Homo sapiens: one gene and its partner. The protein of the gene in region 1 interacts with the protein of each later gene in a pairwise test. Each region holds a gene or a part of one and is shown in the gene's direction. Other genes may lie near its edges.

Region 1 (3,824 bases):
TCCGTTCTGTGACCAGCTGGAGACAACACTTGTTTTTTTAATCTGTAAAGTGAGACTATTTGATTAGGTCAGGTTTGGTATTTTTTTCCGCAAAAAAAAAATTTGTAATGGTAGGTAGGATCATTCAGTTTTAAATCTTCAAATGTGGTGTGGAACTCCAGAGATTAAGGGGGTAAAAATGCAATTTATGTAGCTCTTCTCTTCCTAATCTTGGGGAGCTTCGGGCACTGTAGATTTGCTTATAGAATATCTCTGATGTTCCTCTGTATAGTGGGTGTTTGTGTCATACCCAGCTGGTATGAAGAAGTTTAGACTGACAATTTAGGGAGCCTCCCAGTCATAGCAAACTTAACTTATGTTTCTTTCTTTTTCCCAGCTTTGTCTCCTCAGCACTCTGCTGTCACTCAAGGAAGTATCATCAAGAACAAGGAGGGCATGGATGCTAAGTCACTAACTGCCTGGTCCCGGGTAAGCTGGGCTTTCTTCCCAGTTTCCAACTGGGAATTCCTTTTTGCTTTAGTTCCTTTGCCAAAGATCTTCAGAAATTATATCTTCTTCTCCAGCAGACTAGAATTAGGTTTTTGTTTTGTTTCCAGGTGAGTTAGGAAGAAGACAGATCACTGTGGGCTTTGGTCTTTCCCTCTCTTCTTTTATTATAGAAATTTTCAAATATATACAAAATAAAAATAGTAGAATAGTAGTGGAAAATATGACAGAATGGAATGAGATTAGTGTTACATTTAAAATGGACTGGAGGCTAATACAAGAAAAAGATCAACTCATGCTGACCAAAAAATTCAAAAACAGGTATTTACAAACAGTTATTCTTTTTTTGTTGTTGTTTAGACGGAGTCTTGCTCTGTCACCCAGGCTAGAGTCCAGTGGCGCGATCTCAGCTCACTGCAACCTCCACCTCCCAGGTTCAAGTGATTCTTCTGCCTCAGCCTCCCAAGTAGCTGGGACTACAGGCGTGTGCCACTATGCCTGGCTAAATTTTTGTATTTTTAGTAGAGACGGGGTTTCACTGTGTTAGCCAGTCTCAATATCCTGACCTCAGGTGATCCGCCTGCCTCGGCCTCCCAAAGCACTGCATTACAGGTGTGAGCTACCCCGCCCGGCCAACCAGTTATTCGTTTACAATTATATTCATATGAGGTAAGGGCATTTTGAAAATAATAAACAACACAATTCAGGATAATGCTTACTTCCAGCAAAGAACAAGAAGCACACAAGATATTTCAAAAGTATTAGGAGGAATGAAAGCATACTTAGGCTATATACCTTCTTGGCATGTCTGTACATGCTGGACTGCAGCAGATGGCACTTCTCATCTCTGTCTTCTTTAACACGGTATTGTACTGTTGTGTTAGTGTGTATAATACTATGAGACAGACGGTATTTTACAGCTAAGAGAACTGACTCATGGTGAAGTTAAATAAGCATTATCCAATCCAAAATTTAAGGTATATAGGCCAGGTGCGGTGGCTCATACCTATAATCCCAGCACTTTGGGAGGCTGAGGTGCGCAGATCACCGAGGTCAGGAGTTTGAGAACAGCACGGCCAACATGGTAAGACCCTGTCTCTACTGAAAATACAAAAATAAGCAAGCCAGGCGTGGTGGCATAGTCCTAGCTACTCCGGAGGCTGAGGCAGGAAAATTGCTTGAACCCGGGAGGCGGAGGTTGCAGTGAGCCAAGATCATGCCACTGCACTCCAGCCCGCGTGTCAGAGCAAAACTCTGTCCCACCCCCCCACCCCCACAAAAAGAAAAAAACAAAAAAAACACAAAATTTAAGATGTACAGATTTGACCACAGGTTCGCCTGATTTCAAATCCGGTTCTTGGCTAACATGTCATGCACCTTTCAGTGGTGTCCCCATGATATGCTTTGTCTCTGTGTTCACAGTAAAAGTGCAATGTATTACTTATAGGAATGCTAAAAGCACCAGGCCAGAAATCAGATAGCCACTGAAGTTAAAACTGGGCAGGCTTCTTAGAAACTGAGCAGCAATGAGTGAGTCAAGGACTAGTGGAAAGTAGCAGGCACACTGAACTTCAGTAATACGAGAATGAGGTGGGAGCAGAGTGTCATCACCATTAGGCCTGAAGGGATGAGAACAGGTTCTGGAAACCAGACTTGCAGTTCACAGAGGCTGTTCCCATCTGTCAAGGTACCTCCATTACGTCACCACCACTGCACTGGGGCAACTTTCTTGCCATATCCAGCTGGTGATCTCCATTGGTGAAATAAATCAGAAAGGCAGAGGGCAAGAGAAACCTTTGGTATAATCCACACAGCTCACCCTCCCTGGGGAACAGAGTAGGGTGGAGAGGAAACCTGGAGGGAAGGAGAGAAGATATCCAGCATACAGATCTCATAGGACATTCCATTTAAAATTTTTTTTTTACATACAGTAACGTTTTCCACTTTGGATTTACAGTTCTGTGATTTTTGACAGATGCATATAGTTGTGTAGCCCCCACTTCATTCAAGATACAGAGCAGGCTGGGCACTGTGGCTCATGCCTGTAATCCCAACACTTTGGGAGGCGGAGGCGGGTGGATCACTTGAGGTCAGGAGTTCGAGACCAGCCTGGCCAACATGGTGGAACCCCGTCTCTACTAAAAATACAAAAATTAGCTGGGCACAGTGGCGGGCGCCTATAAACTCAGGTACCTGGGAGGCTGAGGCAGGAGAATTGCTTGAACTCAGGGAACAGAGGTTGCACTGAGCCGAGATTGTGCCACTTCACTCTACCCTAGGTGAAAGAGCGAAACTCCATCTCAAAAAAAAAACAAAACACCAAGATACAGGGCAAACCCATGATCCTAGAATTCCCTGTGTGCTGCCCCTGTGTATATAGTCCATGCTAACTCCCCCTCCAGCCCCTTGCAACCACTGATCTATTGATTTTTACCTTTTCCAGAAGGTCACATAAATGGAATCTCATAGTATGAAGCCTCTAGCTCCTTTCATATAGCATAATGTATCGGAGGTTCATCTGTTGTTGCATGAGTCAGTAGGATGTTCCTTTTTATTACTGAGTAGATTTACACTGTGTGGCTGTACCACGTTTTGTTTATGCATTTCCTGTTGAGGGACATTTGAGTTTCTTCCAGTTTTTGCCAATTATAAATAAAGCCCTTTCTCAGGTTTATACATTTGCATACAGGTTTTTGTGTGGACATAAATTTTCATACTCAGGTATTTAGCCAAGAGAATGATAGGTGTGTGCCAAGAGTACGTTTAACTTTATGAAAAATATGCAAATTTTCCAAAGTGGTTGTAGCATTTTTGCATTCTCACAGTAATGTGTGGGAGTGGCAGTTATTCCGCATCCTCACCAGCACTTGGTATCACACATTTTAAAAGTACCCTTTCTAATAAGTGTCTTAGAGGTATCTCACTGTCATTTTAACTTTCATTTCCCTAATAAATAATGATATTAAGCATCATTTGCTTATTTATTACCAACTACCTATATTCTTCTTTGGTGAAATGTTTATTTTAGTCTTTTGCTCAGTAAGAAAACTAGTCTGTTTTCTGAGTTTTTTTTTTTTTTTTTTTTGGGAGACGGAGTCTTGCTCTGTAGCCCAGGCTGGAGTGCAGTGGCACGATATCAGCTCACTGCAACGTTTGCCTTCTCCCGGATTCAAGCAATTCTCCTGCCTTAGCCTCCCGAGTAGCTGGGACTACAGGTGCATGACGCCATGCCTGGCTAATTTTTTTTTTTTTTTTTTGTATTTTAGTAGAGACGGGGTTTCACCGTGTTGCCCAGGCTGGTCTCGAACTGCTGAACTCAGGCAATCCTGAGGCATTCC
Region 2 (3,824 bases), on another chromosome or scaffold:
CGCAGGTGCTATTGACTTCAGAAAGGTTCATATTGAAAGTTTGATGTGACTGTGGCCGGGCGCGGTGGCTCACGCCTATAATCCCAGCACTTTGGGAGGCCGAGGCGGGCGGATCACGAGGTCAGGAGATAGAGACCATCCTGGCTAACACGGTGAAACCCCGTCTCTACTAAAAATACAAAAAATTAGCCAGGTGTGGTGGCAGGCGCCTGTAGTCCCAGCTACTCGGGAGGCTGAGGCAGGAGAGTGGCGTGAACCTGGGAGGCGGAGCTTGCAGTGAGCCGAGATCATGCCACTGCACTCCAGCCTGGGCAAAAGAGCAAGACTCCGTCTCAAAAAAAAAAAAAAAAAAGTTTGATGTGACTTTAACGCATAATTTTAGAGTGCTGGAAAGGGCCTGGTACCCCAAAAGAGTATTCTTCTAATGTCTGAACCCCGGAGGCGGAGGTTGCAGTGAGCCGAGATTGCGCCATTGCTCTCCAGCCTGGGCAACAAGAGCAAAACTCTGTCCCAAAAAAAAAATTTTTTTTCATTTGTTCTACAGTTTGATAAATCTCAAATTAATACAAAGTTGAGAAGAAAATCAGCTTAGTAAATACAGTCAGCTTCTCTCTTAAGAACAGGTTTTGAGAACTTGATATAGGAAATAAATACCTCCAGGGAGAAGGGTCTTTTGTACCCAAAAGAGGCAGGGTAAAGAAGTCGAGAGGCTTGTAACAACATTACCAACTTGAAAATGTAACCTTGAATTGTACTTTTTATTATCCTGGCTTACAGTTACGTTATTAATACCAACAATGACAAAGTAGCCCCCTTTTTCTTAATAAATATCATCTCATTTAGTCTGTACAAAATGCTGTGAGTTTGGCAGGATTATCCCTATTTGAAATATGAAGAAACTGAGGTTAAGTAGCTTACCCAGGACCATGACACTGAGCAGCAGAGCTGGGGATTAAACCCAGATTCAAAGTCCTTCTTCCTCTTGTATAATACATGCAGCAAAAACATGTCAGATTCTACTAGAAATGATATTCTTCCTAGTAATTGCTTTTTGTTTAATAATGAAGAAAAAAATCTAGATGATTAAGAGGAAATATGTGAAGACAAGTTTTTTCATTAAAAATAATTGGGGCTGGGTGCAGTGGCTCACGCCTGTAATCCCAACATTTTGGGAGGCTGAGGCAGGCAGATTGCTTGAACCCAGGAGTTTGAGACCAGCCTGGGCAACATGGCAAAACCCCATCTCTACAAAAAATACAAAAATTAGCCGGCTATGTTAGCGCATGCCTGTAACCCCAGCTACGCGAGAGGCTGAGGTGAGAGGATCACTTAAGCCCAGGAGGCAAAGTTTGCAGTGAGCCGAGATTGTGTCACTGCACTCCAGCCTGGGTGACAGAGCAAGACCCTGTCTCAAAAATAATAATTGGTTAAACTTTTGGAAAAAGTCACACAAACCTTTACCAGTGTGTGTGGAAGGCAGTGGGCACTTGTAAACACTGTTAAATGGGTTTCTTTACTAATGGCAAATAGCACAGAGAAAAGCAATGAGAACATTCTGAATTTTAGAGCACATCTCATAGAATATATTTAGGACAAGGTGGAATTTAGCTATTTGTATTATAACATCTCATTTTTTTAATAGGTGCCTGATTATTACAAAATAATTAAAAATCCAATGGATTTGTCAACCATCAAGAAAAGACTACAAGAAGATTATTCCATGTACTCAAAACCTGAAGATTTTGTAGCTGATTTTAGATTGATCTTTCAAAACTGTGCTGAATTCAATGAGGTGAGGCTAGGGGAGGGAAGGGGGCAGGAAGGAACAGCAGTGTGAAAATCATTTTATTACTAAACACCTTGTCAACATAGGAGACCAAGATGTCTGAGTTAGAATAAATTTCCAACTTTTCAGATCAGGGAATGCAAGAGATAATTCAGATAACTCTGTCCACATTTATATTCAAAGGTTTATTAGATGGTGATGGAAATGCAAATTACAGCTGATAACTGAAAGACAAAATGTTTTTCTCTGACCTAGACATATTCTTTATCATTCCCACCTGTATTTCTTATTTTTATGTTGATCTTGAAATATTAAGGATGTGGGCCAAATAGCTCTAATTTAAAAATTTCTCATCTGTCAGTTCATCTACACATCAGTCAGACTTAGAACCTTTTGCTGCTGGTGGTTTGTTCTCTGTTACTCATTCTAATAGTACTACATTTAATTTGTTCTAAAAATACCTGGTTCATGATCCTATGGTTATGGAATCCTAACTGATATGTGTTTGGCAATATAGTCCTACCATTACCACCTTCTTTTAGAATAATCCAGGCTTTTACTTTTATCTTTTTTCCACACTTCTGAATCTTTTATTTTAGCTGGCCTTCTGTACAGAGACTTTGTCTAGTCCTAAACTATTATTTCAATGACTATGCATGAACACTTTTCAAAACAGCTCATTAATATATATAATCTCAGAAGTCAAAAGTGTGTCCTTTTTTTACTCATTTTTATTTTTACTCCACAGCCTGATTCAGAAGTAGCCAATGCTGGTATAAAACTTGAAAATTATTTTGAAGAACTTCTAAAGAACCTCTATCCAGAAAAAAGGTTTCCCAAACCAGAATTCAGGAATGAATCAGAAGATAATAAATTTAGTGATGATTCAGATGATGACTTTGTACAGCCCCGGAAGAAACGCCTCAAAAGCATTGAAGAACGCCAGTTGCTTAAATAATATGCAGCACCACTAGCTTGTGCTGGTTTTTAGATTTTTTTGTTTTCAAAAAAACATTTGTCAGTAATTTAACATCACTACAAAAAGAAGAGTTTGTGACTATTCTCATCTCTGTTTTGGACGTTTACTAGACTTTGATTTCCTTAATAGCCCATTTCTGTTAACCTCTTATCACTAAGAAAGAAAGGAAAGAAGGAGATGAATAGAAGAAAGAAAATGGAAAGAAGGAAAAAAGGAGGATAGAAAAAGGATGGAAGAAAGAAGCATTGAAAACAAAGACATTCTTCCCACTTCTTGGATTTTTAAACCACAGTCTGGAGTGATAGCTACTGTAGAAAGGAAATAGACTTTGTATGAACTCTTTAAGTTGAAAAGTAAAAAATATATGTGGTTTGGATGTGTGCTTTAATTCAGCTTTAGAAATTAATACCACTACCCGTGAATTATATGGCCTGACAATATGAATTAGGTGTACTGTACTGAAGAACAGTACTCCACAAACATGGGTGGTAACAAGAGTTCCATCCCAGGAGGCCAAACGGTGCAACAGAAGGGTAGGTTAGATGCTATTAAGAAGGCACTTAATAGTACATCATGTAAGATGGCAACTGTATTAAAGAAAAATCCGGAAAACAAATGTTTGATTTTTGTTTTTGTTTTTATCTTGTCTGTAGAGGTATTTTGGTATAGCAGGTTTTCAAGGCCATTTTTTATACATTTCTAGATCTAGATTTTCAACTTCTTCCACTGAGGGAAGTATATACATTTGGGTTTGCTGTGTGTCTATGTGAGGTTTAATTGTACAGGTGATCCTTTTACAACAAGCCTCATTGTTTGCAGTATAGCTTTTAGTGGAACTACCCAAAATATAAATACAGCAGCGTGCACTGTATTTGATGTGAGGGTTCTTCATCATATACCCTACTGGGCATTAAATATAAGTTCCTCTGAAAGGGACTCGTTTTTGTGGTTTTCATCTGTCTATAATTTGGAATGAAAATGTGTTGTAGGATTTTGGGAGCAGGCAGCTGGGGGGAATTAATAGTGATTTTTTTTTTTTCCTGAAGCATCTATCTCATG

Evidence for each region.
Region 2: the proteins of ZNF10 (region 1) and TRIM24 interact in a two-hybrid assay, tested with the Homo sapiens proteins (one study listed by BioGRID).

The regions. Positions count from the first base shown.
Region 1 is NC_000012.12:133,144,058-133,147,881, forward strand, and holds part of ZNF10 (zinc finger protein 10), read left to right. Parts: intron 1-376; 5' UTR 377-435; coding exon 436-468; intron 469-3,824. UniProt on the Homo sapiens protein: May be involved in transcriptional regulation.
Region 2 is NC_000007.14:138,582,208-138,586,031, forward strand, and holds part of TRIM24 (transcription intermediary factor 1-alpha), read left to right. Parts: intron 1-1,642; coding exon 1,643-1,792; intron 1,793-2,534; coding exon 2,535-2,744; 3' UTR 2,745-3,824. UniProt on the Homo sapiens protein: Transcriptional coactivator that interacts with numerous nuclear receptors and coactivators and modulates the transcription of target genes.